3 linked regions of the Homo sapiens genome follow. The protein of the gene in region 3 purifies or fractionates together with the protein of the main gene of each other region. This does not show direct contact. Each region holds a gene or a part of one and is shown on either strand. Other genes may lie near its edges.

What was found.
Region 1: the proteins of DPF2 (region 3) and SMARCC1 purify together in Homo sapiens (affinity purification with mass spectrometry; 11 studies listed by BioGRID and IntAct, with this or other methods). This does not show direct contact.
Region 2: the proteins of DPF2 (region 3) and BCL7C purify together in Homo sapiens (affinity purification with mass spectrometry; 6 studies listed by BioGRID and IntAct, with this or other methods). This does not show direct contact.

The regions. Positions count from the first base shown.
Region 1 is NC_000003.12:47,584,769-47,589,905, forward strand, and holds the end of SMARCC1 (SWI/SNF complex subunit SMARCC1), read right to left. Parts: intron 3,539-5,137; coding exon 3,441-3,538; 3' UTR 501-3,440; downstream 1-500. UniProt on the Homo sapiens protein: Involved in transcriptional activation and repression of select genes by chromatin remodeling (alteration of DNA-nucleosome topology).
Region 2 is NC_000016.10:30,891,078-30,897,909, forward strand, and holds the start of BCL7C (B-cell CLL/lymphoma 7 protein family member C), read right to left. Parts: upstream 3,001-6,832; 5' UTR 2,868-3,000; coding exon 2,776-2,867; intron 2,214-2,775; coding exon 2,135-2,213; intron 1,872-2,134; coding exon 1,763-1,871; intron 1,671-1,762; coding exon 1,509-1,670; coding exon of another isoform or gene 1,499-1,508; intron 1-1,498. Other genes in the region: CTF1 (cardiotrophin-1), read left to right, coding at 4,827-4,917. UniProt on the Homo sapiens protein: May play an anti-apoptotic role.
Region 3 is NC_000011.10:65,343,830-65,350,912, reverse strand, and holds part of DPF2 (zinc finger protein ubi-d4), read right to left. Parts: coding exon 7,076-7,083; intron 6,923-7,075; coding exon 6,844-6,922; intron 6,334-6,843; coding exon of another isoform or gene 6,292-6,333; intron 5,248-6,291; coding exon 5,110-5,247; intron 4,984-5,109; coding exon 4,855-4,983; intron 4,667-4,854; coding exon 4,554-4,666; intron 2,064-4,553; coding exon 1,982-2,063; intron 1-1,981. UniProt on the Homo sapiens protein: Plays an active role in transcriptional regulation by binding modified histones H3 and H4. Is a negative regulator of myeloid differentiation of hematopoietic progenitor cells. Might also have a role in the development and maturation of lymphoid cells.

The DNA of each region.
Region 1 (5,137 bases), on a different chromosome or scaffold from region 3:
TGGGAGGCTAAGGTGGGAAGATCACTAGAGTCCAGGAGGTTGAGGCTGCAGTGAGTTATGATCGTGCCACTGTACTCTAGCCTGGGTGACAGAGCAAAACCCCACCTCTAAAAAAATAAACTTAATTTTTTGAGATGGAGTCTCGCTATCACCCAGGCTGGAGTGCAGTGGCGTGATCTCAGCTCACTGCAACTTCTGCCTCCTGAGCAGCTGGGATTACAGGTGCGTGCCACCATGCCTGGCTAATTTTTTGTTTTTACTAGAGACAGGGTTTCACCATGTTGGCCAGGCTGGTCTTAAACTCCTGACCTCAGGTATCAGCCCACCTCGGCCTCCCAAAATGCAAGTGCTGGGATTACAGGCGTGAGCCACTGCACCCAGCCTAAACTATTCTTAATTGAATGTGGGGGAATTACTCCATGGTAAGGACCCAGGGAACCTATGTAAGACTGGTTGATCTTGCATGTCCTCCAATATTCTAAAAATAATTCACACACAAGTTTATAAACCAGTCTTTAGTTTCGATAAAGGATTAACCTCCCCCAACATCCTTGAGAAAGTATAGGAATCTGGTGAGACCCAGCTGGCTTTGGCTCTCTTTATTAGAGGCACACCTTCGTGAAGAGCAGGGCGTTCATCTCATGGCAGACACAGAATCCTCTTCTTTTGCTTCACTCGATTTATAAGCATCCTGAAAACAATCACTTCTTTTTTTCTGCACAGGGTTTATATCTGTGAGTACCCAAAAGCTGTCCCCCAAGGTTCACAGAATCTTCTGCCCTCAAGGCCTGCCTCCAACTTGGGACTGTCTAAACTGCATCCTGACAAACATTATCCCATTCACCAAGCAAAGCTATTTCTCACACCTGGAGGTGCCAGGATGTTGGCCATCATTTTTGGAGAACTTCCACTCATTTTCACTTTGACCATGCAAATGAACAGTGGGTGAGGTACCCTCAAAATGTATGTTCCTTACACATCATGAAGGTGGGCAGTCGGGAAGGAAGCCCGAGTCACAGAATTTTAACTGCTGATCAAACCAAGACCAGGTGGGGCCAAATGTTTAGGTTCTTCATAGGATATATGAAGAAACTGGTGTATGAATGCAGAGAATGGGACTAGAATCCAGAAATGGTGTTCCATTTATTCACTGAAAAAGAGAGAGATTAGGCCTTCTTCATTCATTTTCTCCATTCTTGCCAAACTCCCTCCCCTCATTTTTTCCAAAATAACAACACACTGAGAAACATGTTTGTACAAAAACCACATATTATTCCCCCCCCTCACAAAATCAGGTGGCTGAATTACAGGAATAAAACCAGATCAAAGACATGAAAAGAAAAAGCCACCACTTATACTGAAATATAACAGTGTTAAGAATTCAGGTATTTTGTAGAATTATTACTATAGTAAAAATATTTCCACCTGGATCTTTTAAATTTGAAAGTGATCACATTAAAGACCTGAGGTTACAAGGGACCACAGTATGAACCAGAATTCCATTTTCCTTCTCGGACTCCAGGGGAAAAAAGAAGTATTTGGAATGAGTTTCCTTTGGGAAAGACTGGCAGGAAGTAGGTAAAACCCTGGCCATTGTCAAAAGGCACTGGGGTCTTTCTGGAGCCAAATGCATTGGAACTAAGCTCCAGTAGGAATAAACTCATTCTCATTTCCACTCCCAAGAGTCCAGAACAAAAACAAAAGGACCAAGGTCTCCTCGGTTCCCGTATTCCAGTACTCTGATGGTGACCAGGGACACCTGGTTAGAGGCAAACCTGAGGGTTTGAAAGGCAAATCTCAATTGTGGTTTTATTTTTTTGCTTTCTGATATTAAGGAAAAAAGTTCTCAAGTGTTTTATAAACACCTCCCTATACCCTCTCATATGTAAAGCTTTAGAAAATATATAGAAAAAGATATCCAAAAGATGTCCACCTTGCATTCTAAATAATGAAACTGCCACTTGAGAATGTGAAGTGAGAAAGCCAGGCGCTTTGGAAACCAAGCTCTACCAAAAACACCCTTTCCCCACACATGGAAGGACAGAAGGGAGGGAAGGACAAGAGGAAAAAACCGGGAACTCTCAAGTCACTTATCAGCAGGGGTAAATACGAGCTCAAATTAAGGCATTTTTGTGGCTTGTCCTCTGGAATGGCATTCTACCCTCCCAGCCTGAGCACCCCAAACCTCAAAGCATGATGCTCTGACTGCCAAGTGAGTTCCTTGTTACCCTCAGCATCTCTTTGAAAACCCTGTGATAGATGGAATGTGAGATCTCAGAAATGGAAGGGAGAAGGTATAAGGAGCTAATATCCTGCTTCACTTTTCCCGTCCCATCCTAACCTTAAAAGTACCGGTTGACGAAATTCCACTCCCTGGCTACTGTAACAAGAGGTAGTTTGGGGACTTGTACCCCCAGCCATCCTAACCAAGTTTCATGAGCTAAAATATTTAGCACTATCTACTTTTTTTTTTCTTTTAAAGGGTTTTTTAAAGAGGGAGAAAAAAATGCACACAAAGCAGTGAATAGTAGGCTAGACTCATTGGGGGTAATTACCCTAGACTCCTAACTTTCCAGGCTAGTTGAGGAAACTAAGGAATGCCTCCCAATATTCCAACCCTCAAAGCTCACACTGCCCCCAGAAAAACAAAACACTCACCCCCAATCCAATGAATCATCTGCATAGAAAACCAGAGCCAGCAGGCCTAGGGAAGGAGCGGATGTTTGTGCCCTCCTCTAGCACATACTAGTTCAGTGGTATGTTCTGCCAGGCAGTGTGGAGGCCCTCAGAGGCCTCACTAGGGAATAAAATCACTGAGGTTCTCCTTCCACATCTCGTTTAATTTTCACAAATTTGTGTGTGGCAAAAGTCTCAAACTTTACCATCAGCACCATTCTTAGCTCAGAAAAGCAGAAATAAGGTCACTTATAATGCCTTAAGGTTTGTCCCCTGTGGCTATTCCCCCCCTTCTGCCCATCATTATTTTTTGGTTCCTATTAACTTAGGATGCTCTCCTTTAAAACAATAATAACAGAAAGATAAAAAGATAATGATTATATAGCATTATCCATAGAAGCATAAGACAAAGCAAAAAACTGCAAGAGAGCAAAAATGGTAAAGACATAGCATGCTAAAGTTGACAGGACCTGCAGAGAAACTGTCAGCTTACTCCCACACCAGGACAGGGGAGATGCAGGTTATTTTAAGGATGACCAGGGCACACTGTCACTACAGGTTTCCCCTTGAGTGTTGGCTGAGGACCCAACACAAAAAGTGTCAGAGAGAGGGGTGGTAAGAGGAGTGGGGAGGCACGGGACACGTGCTTGGAGCTGTGAGAAGAAAAATCCTGAAAGAAACCCAAGAAAGTTGAGGAACACAAGTCTTGTCATCCCCACTCCAGCTCATGGTGGTGGGCGTGGAGGTTCCCTGCATCTTCCAGGCTAAGGAGCAGCTGAGGCTGGCGGGCCAGGAGCAGGAGGCGGAGGGACCCCATCTGCAGGTGGTGGTGGCGGTGGCTGCTGCTGTGGTGGAGGGGGATCTGCAAACATATCCAAGAGTAACTCGTTATTGCTGGAAATACAAGAGACTCAGGAAAGAGCCTATTCAGTGAAAAAAAGACACAGAAGTCCTTTCCTTAGTGGCAGGCAACCAATGCACCCTGTGAGGCATTGATTCCACTGTGGTCTATGCAAGTCAATTCCTTCTGAACCTCTAGGGCACTGCTCAAGTTGCTTAGCCTAACCCTAGTGGCTGGGGAGTGGGAGGTGTCTGAATTTCCCCCACCCTCCTTCCAGGCCAACTCCTTCCAAGAATCGCTCCAGGCCCTTTCAGAAGTTAATTTTGATTGCATTGTATTTCAAGGGTTCTAATTTTATTTCTTCAGTTAAAAAATAAGCTCCTTCCTGGGACAGTTCTATGTCTTGTTTTTCTTCCCGCCCCCCCCCCGCCCCCACAGTCCCTAGCCTAGCTGGGCACAAAATAGATTATCAATAAATTCTTGCTATATAAATGTCTCCACCAGGGCCAGAGAGCTTCACTTGAGGCAGTTGCTGACAAACTGGATAGTCCAGGGAGGCCTCCACAGCTCCTGAACTGCAGTCCTTCGATTTTTGGCCCAAACTAGGTCATGTCCTGAAGGGAACAATTAGTATGAGTGTCTGGGACTCTTTCCTATTTCAACTTTACCTGCTTTAGTGTACAAAAGAACCCGAGAGATCATTTAATCCGGGTTTTAAAAACCCCTAGATCTTGTCAGAATTGAAAACATATGAAATAAAGTGCAGCATTGCTCACCAATCAATTCACCCAACTCTATGCCCAAGAGGTTTCTACCAAACCCTTAAGACTCTTGAAAGCATTCTGAAGCTCACTGATCTAATCCCTTGTGTCATCTTTCAGTGGAGGAAATGAAGGGCTGAAGTGGAGAAGCAACTCATCCAGTGTGGCCTACCTAGTATCCTAGAACCAATTCACATGGTTCAGAATTCCAGAGCACTGACTTATGGCAGGAACCAGGCAGCAGGTGGGAAGGTTCCACCTGAAACCCTCCACATTCTCAAGGAGCTCTACTGAGGTCCCTTTGGGAAGGAATCCTGAAGTACAAAACATGGGTGACCAGCAGGACATGACAGTGGTAAATTGGTAAAGACCAGTGATACTACCTCTGCAATAGGGATGGAAAACTGGTCAACTCTCTTGATAGGCGAGCTCATTTATGTATGGTCCACAGGGTGGCTTGGCAAACATTTTCTTGCCAAGAAAAAGAGGTACCTACTGTACTACACAACCACTGACCACTAGCTTAAGGGAGATAATTTTAAAAAGTTGTTGTGATCTTATATACCTAGATAAATTAGTGTCTTTCTTCTGTGCACCTACTTTGTCCCAGACTCTGGGGGCCAGAGAAGAGTCAGACATGTCTCTGTCCATGAAGCCTCCCAGAGTATTAGAGTGTACTTAAGGCACATCACAGTCTCATGTAACCTTTGGTAAGTTCTATATGCCTTCATTTGCTAAGTTCTATCCAAGTTTTCATTTCTTGTTTTCTCAACTAAAGCTCCTACAGAGCAAGAATTCTTATGCTTCCTATCTCTCTGAACTATAAATAGTAGCTAAACTTTTGGCCACACGTGAACTT
Region 2 (6,832 bases), on a different chromosome or scaffold from region 3:
AGAATCGCTTGAACCTGGGAGGCAGAGTTTGCAGTGAGCCAAGATCGTACCACTGCTCTCCAGCCTGGGCAACAGAGCAAGACTTCATCTCAAAAAAAAAAAAAAAAAAGGCTGGGCGTGGTGGCTCGTAATCCCAGCACTTTGGGAGGCCAAGGCGGGCAGATCACCTGAGGTCAGGCGTTTGAGACCAGCCTGGCCAACATGGCGAAACCCCAACTCTACTAAAAATACAAAACCAGCCGAGCATGGTGGTTCATGCCTATATTCCCAGCTACCCAGGAGGCTGAGGCAGGAGAATTGCCTGAACCCAGGAGGTGAAGGTTGCAGTGAGCCAAGATTGTGCCGTCGCACTCCAGCCTTGGCAAGAGCGAAACTCTCTCAAAGAAAAGAAAAAGAGAAAAGAAAAAAACCCAACCACGTAAAGTGTTTACCAGGGCACCTAGCACACAGTAAGAGCTCAATAAATACTAGCTGTTGTTATTCCTATTATTGTTAATCACCCCTATGACTATCACTATTATTTATTCACTCAACAGATATTTACTGAGCACCTACTATGTGTCCCATATTATTCTGAGGATACAGTAGTGAACAAGATCACATAGGGCCAGGCACAGTGACTCACGCCTATAATCCCAGCACCTTGGGAGGCTGAGACAGGAGGATCATTTCAGGCCACGAGTTCAAAACCAACCTTGGCAACATAGCGAGACCCTACCTCTACAAAAAATTTAAGAATTGGCTGGGCATGGTGGCACACACCTGAGTCCCAGCTATTTGGGAGGCTGGGGCCAGAGGATCCCTTGAGCCCAGGAGTTTGAGGCTGCAGTGAGCTATGATTGCACCAGAGTACTCCAGCGTGGGTGACAGAGACCTTGTCTCTAAAAAAAAGGGGGGGGAGGGCCGGGTGTGGGTGTGATGGCTCACACCCGTAATCCCAGCACTTTGGGAGGCTGAAGGTGGAGGACTGCTTGAGCAAGTGAGTTTGAGACCAGCCTGGGCAACATGGTGAAACCTTATCTCTACAAAAAATACAAAAATTAGCCAGGTGTGGTGGCATATGCCTGTGGTCCCAGCTACTTGGGAGGCTGAGGCGGGAGGATCGCTTGAGCCCAGGAAGTTCAAGGCTGCAGTGAGCTATGATCACACCACTATACTACTCCAGCCTGGGTGACAGAGCGAGACCCTTTCTCAAAAAAAAAAAAAAAAAAAAAAAAAAAAAAGGATCAATATGGGCCCAACATTCAGGAAACTGACATGAGAGTGAGGAGAAAGATAAACTAGTAAAAAATTAATTTACATGAAAATCTCAGACAGTGATATGTCTGTATAGATTCTAAGAGACCAGAGGAATGAGACTGTAGCTACAGGGAGATTCTGCAGGAGTCGGAAGGCGCCTTGAGGAGGGTGCACAAGACGGGGAGCAGGTATAGGGATGAGCTGGTAGGTTAGACTCTGGAGAAGACAGGACTTAGAGGAGAGAGCTCCTGGGAGGTACCTGGTCCTACCTCTCTCTTGGCCCAGCCGTGGGGGCTGAGCCTCCTCAGGGACCCCTTCTGGGGGTCCGGCAGGTGACACAGGGCGGCTGGGCTGGGGGGTGCCCCCAGGACTGGGCTCTGTGCCCTTTTGCAGGGAACCTTCCGAATGGAAACTCTGGTTGCTGTTCTCATCTGCGGGAGCAAGAGCCGAGATGGTTGGCCTGAGATCCCTAGTACACTCCTTCAGTCCCCACAGCCCCCCGCGTTTCAGGATCCCTACCTACCATTAAGATCCAGCAGGATGAGAGGGCCACCCCCTCGGGGACTGGCGCCCCTGCCCCGACGTTCCCGGCCACGGGATCTCTCTGCCCCGCCACCTGCCCGCCTTCGCTCCTGGGGGTTAGAGGATTAGGGTCAGAGCTCTTGGAAAGCCCCACCATACACCTAAGGAAACTGAGGCACTGAGAAGCAAAAGGGCTCAAACTCAGGGGGTGTGGAGCAGAAAAGAGGGCAAAAGGGGAGGAGCTGCTAATGATGGTTCCCGTCTGTCCTGCTGCATCTGAGGTCTCGGGGAGCTGGAGGTAGAGGTCAGCGTGGGGAGGAACTTGCCTGAGGTTGCACAGATGCAGGGCCTTGTGGGAATGGGGGTTGCTCACCTCCTCCTGGGGATCCACCACTGGCACCCACTTGAAGATACGAAGGGAAGTGTCGCCCACAGTCACCCATCGCTTCTCCCTGTGGGAGGGTGGGGGGCTGGGTCAGAGAGGCCTGAGGGGAGACCCACCCCCCTAGGAGCTGGACACATCTGGGGGTACCTGCAGAGGTTGAGGAGGCACAGGAGGATAGCAACAGTTTTGCTAATGGGGCATAGTTACATGGAGGAAGAGAGTCCTGCAAACCCCAGGGCATAGGCGGTGGGTGCCTCTAGAGAGAGGATATGATTTGGGGCCCTGGCTCTGCGGACCCCTGGGGCACACATGGGGGGCGTGGCTATGGGCCTGGCCCGGGATCAGAGCCCTGCAGATCCTGGGGCGCACCTGCAGGAGGGGTGTCAAAGCTTTAGGGGGCGGGGCACAAGAGGGGGCTCCCGCTCTGGGAGGACACGGCTGGGGATCACGCTTTGTAGACCCCCAGGAGTAGCCAGGCGAACGGGGACAGAGCCCTGTGGATCCAGGGCAAAGCTAGTGGGTGGAGATACACCGAACACCCGGGGCCCAGAGCTGGCGAGGGCAGCGTAGACGCCTTTGGTGCTGGTGGTCCCGCTGTGTCCCGTCCCTGGCCCCCGAGCAGCGCTCACCATCTCCGGACCTTCTCGATGGTCGCCATCACCTTCTTGATGTCATCCTTGGCCCGGCTCCGGGTCTCGGCCCGTACAGTCCGGCCGGCCATGCTGGCGGGGCTGGGGCCGGGGCCGAGCCCGCGGCGGGGCCGCCTCCCGTCCGGCGGGCTCAGGCTCCGCGCCAGGCCCGGGCGCCGCGCTCTCGGCCTGCCGTCCCCCCTGGAGTTGGCCGCGCCCTCTCTCGTCCCCAACGCCTCCGCAAGTCCCCGCCCCGTTTCCTGCCGCCGCGCCCCGCCCCGGCCTGTCCCCGGAGCGGCCCGGTGGCGCGGGCGGCCAGAGCCCAGGCCTGGAAGCCCGGCCGGCCCCGCCCCGACCCGGGCCCGCCCCCTTGGAGCGCCTGGACGCTCAGCGCCCCCTGCCCGCCGCCGAGAGCGGGAGTTGGGGACGGACGCGCGAGTTGGGGACGGAGAGCGGGAGTTGCGACCGGACGCGCGAGGCAGGGCCGAGGCCGTGTGTTCAGACCACGTGGGCGCGGGGTGCGCGACAGGGTCTGTGTCCTGCGCTGCGTGAGCCGCGGTGGGTGTCCGCGAAACGCTGTGTGTGGAGTGCGTGCGTGTGTCCGCCCTCGCCAGGCTGTTGGTCTACACCGCCCAACTTACTCAGTCATCCATTCATTCAACAGTCTTGTTAACTGAGTGCCAATTACGCTCCAGGCGCTGCGAATACGAGTGGGTCTCCACCACCAGAATGGCTAAAGTGAAAAAGACCGCACCGTGTGGAGGCGAGAAAGTAGAGCGACTGGACCTCTCTTGTATTTCTGGGGGAGTGTAAATTGGTAGAGACATTTTGGAAAACTGGCAGTTTTCTAATGAAGCCGAACATATGCCACCTCTGTGATCCAGCAGTTCCACTCCTAGGCTGTCAACACCCAGCAGAAATGTGTAGGTGTGAGCATCAAGAGGGTGCATGGGAATGTTCAGAGCCCTTTCATAACAGCCCCAAACTGGAAATAACCCATCAACAGAATGGAAAATGAATGATGCCCTACTCACTACCATGCACATAGACACAGCAACGGGATTGACATGCCCGGCTACACACAGCAACATAGACAAGTCGCATGATGAAATCTTGAGTGACAGAAGCCAAATGCAACAGTACATACTAGATGGTTCCAGGTGTATTACGTTCAGAACCAGACAAAACTAATTTATAGTGCACCAAAGTCAAGATAGTGATCGCCCTTAGGGTTGGGAGGGGACGAGGGGAGAGCTTCTGGGAGCTGATCCAGTTCTGTTGTGTAATCTGGTGCTGGTTCCCTGGGCATATGTATTCTGTGAAAATCCATCACATGACTTAAATAAAATGTACATTACTTAAATAAAATGAGTGTGTCTTTGTTGACTTTATTTGAGGCTGGCTTGTCAGCAGATAAGACCATGTCAAAATTTGTGCTGCTGTTGTGTGTGTGTGTGTGTTTCAAGGTGTGGCTGTTGTGTCTGTGAATTTGGGCGTGACCATGTCCAGAGGTTAAGGGTATAAGGGGTTAGGAGCATGGTTAAGACAGCATTTTTTTGAGCCAAGCTGCTTAGGTAAAATCCCAGTTGTGCCACACCTAACTGTGTTACCCTGGACAAGTCACTTCTCTCTATTCCGCATCTATAACACAGGAGTTAGTTAATGTGCATATGGCTCTTAGAACAGTGCCCAGCACATGGTAAATGCCCAATAAATATTTACAGTTAATACACATGTGATTGTGGGCCCTACCAATTGTCTGGCTCAATTCTATCTGCTGTGCCCTCTCCAGTTAAACTCTTTCTTCTTTTATTCCAGCAATTGCTCACGGCAATACACACACCCACTCACACGAACACACGCACACACATGCACGCGCACATGCACACACGCGCACACCTGCACACTCACACGCACACAAATCCACTCGCACACACGCATGCTCACACGCACACACGTCCGCATGCACGCACACACGCAGACACACGCAAGCGCACACACACACGGGCCTCCTCGTCTTCATTCACAAACCCCATTAGCTTCTGTTGTCTATGGGCTTCCTCGACAGACCGCGAGCCCCTCGCGGGGGCCAGAAACCAAGTATGGATCATCCCTATGTGCCTTCCTTTCCGTCTACACCAGGTTAATGGGGTTGACGTATGGGTGTGACTTCCTGTCCAGGTCTCTGTAGCTTGTTCTCCTGGGGGTGGGGGGCGGGGTGTGATTGTTACTAGGCCTGCTAAGAAGAGGAGAGCAGTGTATCTGTCTCCCTCCTGGTGGGTGTGACAATGAGATTGGAAGCCATCTAAGATAGGCCAGGAGATGTATGTCTGGACAAACATGCCCCAAGCCTGACGGCCCCCATCGTAGCCTCCCTCGCAAGCCGCGCCCCAGACTAGAGAGAGGGCCTGCGCATTCCTGTCCTGCCAGTCCGGCAGTTCCCTCTCCTGTCTCCTCAGCTTTACACCCAAAGCAGCCGCTGCCTCAGGTCCAAGCCTGAGCCCGCGGCAGAACATTGGGCTGCCTCCCAGGCCCTGACACCCCCAGCCCCGAGGTCCTGTCCACCCGGCAGACAACTTGCCTTCCCCCTCGGGCCCCTTCCCCCACTAGGCCCCACGGACGAGGAGCTGAGCTCAGGGCCAAGGAATCCTGTCTCAAAAGGGGGGGTAGGATGAAATGTTTGGGGTCTGGGCTCTGATTGGCTGCGCCCGGGCCACGCCCCCAGCCCTTTCCCCTTTCTCCCCCCTCGAAAGGGGGGCGTGAAGGGAGCCGGGATCAGCCAGGGGCCAGCATGAGCCGGAGGGAGGGAAGTCTGGGTAAGGGGCTGAGGGACCGGACGCCGGGTCGCTGAGGGGCGCAGGAGTCAGAGGGATTGGGAGCTGGGGGTCTGGGTTTCCGCCACCCCCGGGTCCGGGAGGGGAGCGGCCTTGGCGGGGAAGGGCAGGGCTCCGGTGTCAGGTAACGAGTGAGCGGGTGAGTTGTGAGAAACAGCAGGCGCTAGGGTTTAGAGGAGGCCTGGGGCTGAGGTTTCAGGGACCTGGGCTCAGGGCTTAGATCACCGGTTCGAGTACACCCAGGGGGAGGACTGGGGTCGGGGCTGGGGCAGGACCCCTGCGTCCACTGAGTCTCGGGAAAGAATCAGAGCTGGGGGGCTGAAGGAAGGGGTAGAGTAAGGGAAGGCAGTCTTGGAGTCACAGGAAGTAGTGAGTGACAACAGGAGACGAAAGTCTGGGCTGCTGAGGATCGCGACTGGTGCTGGGAAACTTCGGGGGTGGGGCGGGGGCGGGGCACCGGGTCAGGACTACATTCCCCAGCACGCATCGGGCGCGCGCTGTGCGTTTCGGGAAATGGAGTCCCTCCCGGGGCGCCAGACACTGGCTCTTGCGGACCTTGATTCGCTGACTAGCCAGGCCAGCGCCTTGCATGGATGGGGCATCAGGGAGAGAAATGGAAATGGAAGTCAGTCTCCCTATCTGTAAAATGGGCCTTCAAGGCACATTTTGATATGAAGTTCTGTACTTCGATGATGTTGAAGTCCACTAGCAGTCACTGAGGTAGAAATATGTAAGCCCTGTCTTCAAAGGGCTCTCAGGCTAAGGCAGATACACACAGAAAAGCCGTTAAAAGAGCTACCCTGGAACTCATGCAAATGGCCTTAAGTCAAAGGAAGGAGTTCGTTTATAAAGGAGAAGTGATTCTGGAGGCTTCACTGAGGAGGCAGTACAGTCATGCACTGCATAACAACATTTGGTCAACAGGTGGACCGCACAGACAATGGAGGTCCCATAAGATTCTATGCATTTTTAGCCTGGGCAACATGGCGAAACCCTGTCTCTACAAAAAAATACAAAAATTAACCGGGCATGGTGGCGCATGCCTGTAGTCCCAGCTACACAGGAGACCCAGGCGGGAGGATCGCTTGAGCCCAGGAGGTCGAGGCTGCAGTGAGCCAAGATTGCACCACTGCACCCCATCCTGGGCGAAAGAGCAAGACTCCGTCTCTCTCTCTCTCTCTCTTTCTCTTTTGGGATGGAGTCTTTCTCTGTTGCCAGGCTGG
Region 3 (7,083 bases):
CTGCCTCCCAGATTCAAGCAATTCTCTTGCCTCAGCCTCTATAGTAGCTGAGATTACAAGCGCACAGCACCACGCCCAGCTAATTTCTCTATTTTTAGTAAAGATGGGGTTTTGCCATGCTGCCCAGGCTGGTCTTGAACCCCTGGGCTCAAGAGATCCCAAAGTGCTGGGATTACAGATGCGAGCCACAGTGCACAGCCAGTTTTTATATTTTTAAGGGGATTTTCTTCAGGCTAGATGCAGTGGTTCACACCTGTAATCCCAGCACTTTGGGAAGCTGAGGTGGGTGGATCACTTGAGCCCAGGAGTTCGAGACCAGCCTGGGCACCATGGCAAAACCCCGTCTCTACTAAAAATACAAAAATTAGCCGGGTGTGGTGGCATGCCTGTAGTCCCAGGTACTCAGGAGGCTGAGGTGGGAGGATTACCAGATTACCTGAGCCCGGGGAAGCAGAGGTTGCAGTGAGCTGAGATCATGCCACTCCACTCCAACATGGGCAACAGAACAAGACACTGTCTCAAAAAAAAAAAAAAAAAAGAAAGAAAGAAAAAGAAAAAGAGAAAAGAAAAGAAAACAAAACAGCTTGCAAGCTATTTAAGCTGGCTGTGGCTGGATGTGGTCCATAGGTTTTAGCTTGTAGCTTGCTGACCCTGACCTAGAACATCTGATACTTCTAGGGGTTGCCCCTCAGCTGCCTTAACACTACAGTGAGGACACTCGGGCCTGCAGCTCTCCACTACCTCGATGTCCCACAGAACTTTAATAGGAAAGCCATTCTGTAACATAGATCATCTGTTTGATGGTTTAAAAAAACAAAACAAAACAAAACATAAACATGCGACTTCTCCCCAAAGCAGATTCATAAACTGGGCCTGACAGAAGCTGAGTACTCCCCTACAGCTGCTAAAGGACTCTTAGACATTGTCAGGGGCCTCATTCTCTAGAGGGGTGACAGCAGTTTGACCGATATGTTACAAGTCAGCTTACATCACACAATGAAACACTTTCTCTTGCCTGTAATGCTGGCCCACATCCTTTGTGCACAGTAACAGCTCCTGGGCATTTGTGTTCTGAGTAAGCTACTGAATTTCTGTTGGCTTTTTTTTTTTTTTCTTTGAGATGGAGTCTCGCTCTGTCGCCCAGGCTGGAGTGCAGTGGTGCGATCTCGGTTCACTGCAAGCTCCGCTTCCCGGGTTCACGCCATTCTCCTGCCTCAGCCTCCTGAGTAGCTGGGACTACAGGCGCCCGCCACCACAGCCGGCTAATTTTTTTGTATTTTTAGTAGAGACGGGGTTTCACCGTGTTAGCCAGGATGGTCTCCATGTCCTGACCTCGTGATCCGCCCACCTCGGCCTCCCAAAGTGCTGGGATTACAGGCTTGAGCCACCGCGCCCAGCTGCTACTCAATTTCTGTACAGGAGGTGTTTATGTACAGAAATCCAGCTGGAAGGGGACTTGTGGAGATGCAACCAATTCTTGGTGCCACCACTGGTTTCAGTGAATAGCTTTAATAAATTTGGACCATTATTACAGTAAGTTATCGGAGAAGCAGACTGACCCATTCAGGCTCCAAAGTCAAGTCCCTTCCCAGTTCAGAAGGGGAAGGGATAGGAAATAAATGCTCAAATCTATCAAATTTCAAGAGTTGACTGCAGAAGTTTCACATCAGATAATCTACCACTTGAGTTTTCTGGACTGGTTGGAAGAAAATAAATCATTCCTTCTGGGTGCCTGATCTCGGCTCAGCATCTGCTTTCTTCTGGGCTGTTGATTTTCTGTTGTAAATGTAGCTGATAATGTGCAAACACTAAACCCTTTAAGTTGAAATGTTAGGAAGGCATTCTAAACTGAGCCAAGGCAAGGTGCTTTACTCCCTAATTTGGAAGAATATGTAAGTGATAACATAAAGAACATAGAACTCAGTATTTTCCAAGTAACTAATAAAGTAATTGTTCTGAGTAAAAGATCTGGGCAACTTACCTTCAGGGGGCTCAGACATGGACGGGGTGAGACAGTACATGTGGTAGCCACGATCGCAGTCATCACAGAAGAGCAACTGGTCCTGAAGTAGGCAAGAGGGAAGAGGATGGGGACTGAATAACTGATGTGCCTCAGGCCACTACAGGACACTGCTATTTCCAAGAGGGGTAGGTAGCAGGTAAGAACAGATGTGAGAATCTTATGTGGGAAACCATGCTGCCCCTCTCCACCGCAGATCCAGTCACTGTCATTTCTCACTTGGGTCCTTTCAGAGCTCCTAATTGATCAAATCACCTCCACTTTTTTTTTTTTTTTTTTTTCCCTAAAGCCCAAGCTCTATGGTATATTTTTTTGAGACAGGGTATTGCTGTCACTCAGGCTGGAGTGCAGTGGTGCAATCACGGCTCACTGCAGCCTTGACCTCCTGGGCCCAAGTGATCCTCCTACCTCAGCCTCTCAAGTAGCTGGGACTATAGGCACACACCACCACACCTAGCTAATTTTTCAATGTTTTTGGAGAGACAAGATCTCCTTACGTTGCCCAGGCTGGTCCTGAAATCCCAGGCTCAAGCAATCCTCCCACCTCAGCCTCCCAAAGTGCTTGGATTACAGGTGTGAGACGCCGTGCCCAGTGACTATTTCTTTTTGAGACAAGGTCTTGCTTTGTTGCCCAGGCTAGAGTGCGGTGGTGTGATCATGGCTCACTGCAGCCTCAAACTCCTGGGTTCAAGCAATCCTCCCACCTCAGCCTGCCAAGTAGCTGGGACTAACGTGTGTGCCACCACACCTGGCTAAGTGTTTATTTTTTTTGTGGAGACAGGATCTCCCTATGTTGCTCAGGCTGGTCTTGAATTCCTGGGCTCAAGTGATCCTCCCGCCTCAGCCTCTCAAGTGTTAGGATTACAGGCATGAGCCTCCATCCTTGTCCCTACAGTCTACCCTCCACACGGCACCCAAAGTCATCTTTTTAAAATATAAGACAAGGGCCAAGCACGGTGGCTCACACCTGTAATACCAGCATTTTGGGAGGCTGAGGCAGGTGGATCACCTGAGGTCAGGAGTTGAAAACTAGCTTGGCCAACATGGTGAAACCCCGTCTCTACTAAAAATTAGCCAGGCGTGGTGGCGGGCGCCTGTAATCCCAGCTACCTGGGAGGCTGAGACAGGAGAATTGCTTGAACCTGGGAGGCAGAGGTTGCAGTGAGCCGAGATTGCGCCATTGTACTCCAGCCTGGATGACAAGAGTAAAACTCCATCTTGAAATAAATAAATAAATATAAAATAAAATATAAGACAAGGCCAGACATGGTGGGTTCATGCCTGTAATCCCAGCACTTTGAGAGGCCAAGGTGGGAGGACTGCTTGAGCTCAGGAGTTTGAGACCAGCTCAGCAATATGGCAAGACCCTGTCTCTACCAAAAATATAAAAAAGTAGCCAGACATGGTGGTGTGCATCTGTGGTCCCAGCTACCCGGGAGGCTGAGGTGGGAGGATTGTACTGCTTGAGCCTGAAGGGAAAGGTTTTAGTGAGCTAAGATCGCGTCACTGCACTCCAGCCTGGATGACAGAGAGACTCTGTCTCAAAATAAATAAATAAATACATAAAGAATAAATAAATAGCTGGGTGCAGTGGCTCACGCCTATAATCCCAGCACTTTGGGAGGCTGAGGCAGGCGGATCACCGGAGGTCAGGAGTTCGATACCAGCCTGGCAAACATGGAGAAACCCCATCTCTACTAAAAATACAAAATTAGCCGGGTGTGGTGGCACGTGTCTGTAATCCCAGCTACTTGGGAGGCTGAGGCAGGAGAATCACTTGAACCCAGGAGGCAGAGGTTGCAGTGAGCTGAGATTGTGCCACTGTACTCCAGCCTGGGCGACAGAGCAAGACTCCATCTCAAAAAAAAAAAGTAAATAAATAAATACATAAATAACCATGTCACTTCCCGAGTAAAACCCTTCAACAGTGTCCTGTTGTACCTAGAATAAAACCCGAGGCCCCAGAGATCTGGCAGTGCTTGCCTCTCTCATCTCATTGCCCACCATACTCTCCCATGCCCTGTCATCTGGCTTGTCCAACATAAGGCCTTGGCGCTGGCTGCTCCTTTCCTGGGATTCCTCTACCTCCAAATCTTGACTGGCTCCTTGGTATCACCAAAATTTCAACACCAGCATCACCCTCCCAGAAGAGCCATACCTGACCATCAAAATAAATCACTTATGCAATTATTCTCTGCCACAGTACTGATTTCGTTTTTTTCATGGCACATTATACAAATCTCATTTACATCCTTGCTTATTGTTGTTCCTGTAAGAATGTAAATCTCATGAGGCAGGGACCTTGTTTGTCTTTAGCATCTTTAGTGACTAGAACAGTGTCTGACATAAAATCAGCACTCAATATATATCTGGCAACAAATCAGAGTTCTGACTGAGATGCTAGGGAGGGGCGTGTGGCATGTGGGAGGGATCCTGCTCCCTTTTTAAAAGAAAGCTCACTTTAGAGGGAACTGTGCAAACAGCAGTAAAAGCCCAGAAGGAGCCATGCTGAGGAGGGGGCGGGGATACACACGTCATTCTCGGAGGTGCCGCAGATATTGCAACATTTGCACTCGATGCACTGCCAGCGGTATGTCTTCACTGCCGCCATCATCACGGGGGTAAATTGGAGGCAAGATGGATGCCCTGTAGTGGGGGAAGTGAGTGAGACAGACAGTCGGAAATGCGGGGGGAAGAGAGGAGCTCCTGCCTGTGGCTACATCTTCTCTTGGTTAGGAAAAGCGAGGTGGGCTGGTTATGACAGCCCTAGAGGCCAGCAAGCCAAGAGCCCCTTGGGGACTGGGCAAAGCAGCAGCCTTCACGGGAAGCAGTACCTGAGCGGCCACAGTCAGAACAGGACACCAGCTCCTCGGGTTGTCCCGTCTTCTTGTTAATCTTTGAGTCCCCCAGGCAGAAGTCACAGTAGTTGTTGGGCAAGGCCAATCCATCAGGACCCTTTTTGGCTACAGAGAGAAAGAGTTTTGATGACACCCATGGGGGTCCCTGAGCCACTCAACACCCATGCAAGGAGTGGTTTTCATAACCAGGCCAACTTCTGCTTGCCCACCACTTCTGACACCTCAGCTTACATTTCTGCTCCTCAGACCTCTGGGAAACAGGAGTGGGTGGTTGAGAGTCTTCCTTGTCCTCGCCCTCCTCCTCAGCCAAGTGGGAGTGGGCATAGTGGTAACTGAGGCCTGGTCGGTTCTTGTAACGTTTTCCACAAACTGAGTGGGAAGAAGATTGCAGAGAAAGGTGTTAGGATACAAGAGTGCCATGTCCCCATCCCTGCAAGCTGTGGGGGCTCCACCTGAGGCAGAGGGCAACCATCCCTTCCCCTAGCAGCTCCACTCTGGGACAGGCCTTGAGTGACGGCCACTTCCCCTCAGCCAGGAGCATCAGGCCGTGGGGCTCTCTAGCTTCTGGGGCTCTTTTCCCTCCTGAACTCCAACCCCATGGCCACCACTGCTCTTCCATGTTGACTTTTGGGGGGCTTAGCCCTTGCCCCATCACCAGTTAGTTGCTCTGGGATATACTAACAGTCTGGGACGCTCCAGGTCAGGAAAGGGAAGGATATTCCTATATCTTTGGGGTGGCAGGAAGGGGGAAAAGTGGATAAGACTCCAAACTTTTTTACCCCTCAGTAAATGTGGGAGGCTCATGCTACCCCACACACCATGGAGCCCATCTCCCCTGAATGTGGGTAAACAAGCAGGGGATGGGTTTCTTGGGGATAGCCTATCAATGAAGCCAGTTGGGCAGTTGGTCCCCAAAGAAATTCAAGCACACTCCCATGTAATTGCCCTGTCCAGGCCTGCCAATCAGCAAGGAAAGCAGATCCCCATGAGGCATTTTGTCATCTTGAGAAGTAATACCAAGAAGGGCAAGGGGGCCAGCAGGAAAGGAGTGGGGAGAGAGGATGGCAGGAGGAGGTGGTGGGGCAGTGGGGAACATGAGCTGACCACCAGCTGCCTGGTCTGGGGAGGGAGCGGAAGGGTCTGATTGTAATGGGCTCCTGATAATGCTTCTGAAGCCACCCCATGCACTGGGCCGAGCAGCTCTAGGAGCAGGTTTGTGGGAAACAAGCAGTGGTAAAGGCAGCCTTCAGGACTTTGAGGAGTAGAGCACAGCAGAAATTCCACTGCTCCTACCCCCATGCCATTCCAGAGATTTTAAAGCTAGCATCCCAGGAAATGAGAAAGGCAGGAGGAACAAGGGAAGAGGGAAAAAGGGAAAGGAAAACCACAAGTCTGAAAAGTTGAGAGAGCTACCTCTCTGGGGCGCTTTCGAGGTATGCTTTTGTTTGAAACTATCTGAAAGACAGAAAGAAAAGTCATGAGAAGAAGGCCTTGATACACTTGAGACAGGAGCAGCAGCAGCAGGAAAGCAGAGCAAACGAGAGAGAAACCCCAGCGGCGATGGTGCTCCCAGGGTGGAGGGACAGAAGTGGGGCAAGGCAGACAGAAAGAAAAAGAGAACAGACGTTGAAAAACTCAGTGTCAGACCCCTGGGGCCCTGGCTTAACTGAGGCCAGGAGACCTGCAGGCCATCTGTTGAGAGGCCAACCCTGCCTGCTGTGGCCCCCACAAGCAACCCTACCCCAGAGGATGGCAGAAATCTTTCCCAGAGCATGCAGGTCCCACCCGTCATATAGCAGGGACCCAGGCCTCCCAGGGGTCTCAGACGGAAGCAGTCAGCAGGCAGGACAAGAGCCCAGGTTTGTTTTAATACTCTGGGCAAAAACACAACCCTCCCTCCTCTCATATCCAGAGCAGGAGCTGGGTCCAAGGCAAGGTCTACCCACCCACTTGTGAGGCACTCACTGTCACAGGCATAGGGCTTATCCCGGTCCTCCAGGATGGAAGCATCCAGCTTCTTACGGGCACTGCCCACACCCTTACCCTGCCAAGAAGAGCAAAGAGACACCCTTATTTTGGTAGCTGGGCCTGAGGAGTTAGACTCTTTTGGAAGTGGCCGCTAATCTCACTTGAAATAAAATAAGGAATTCCCTAGGCCACCCTGTCCCAAGATGCAGGCAGCACGCTGGCCCCTCACCTTGGATT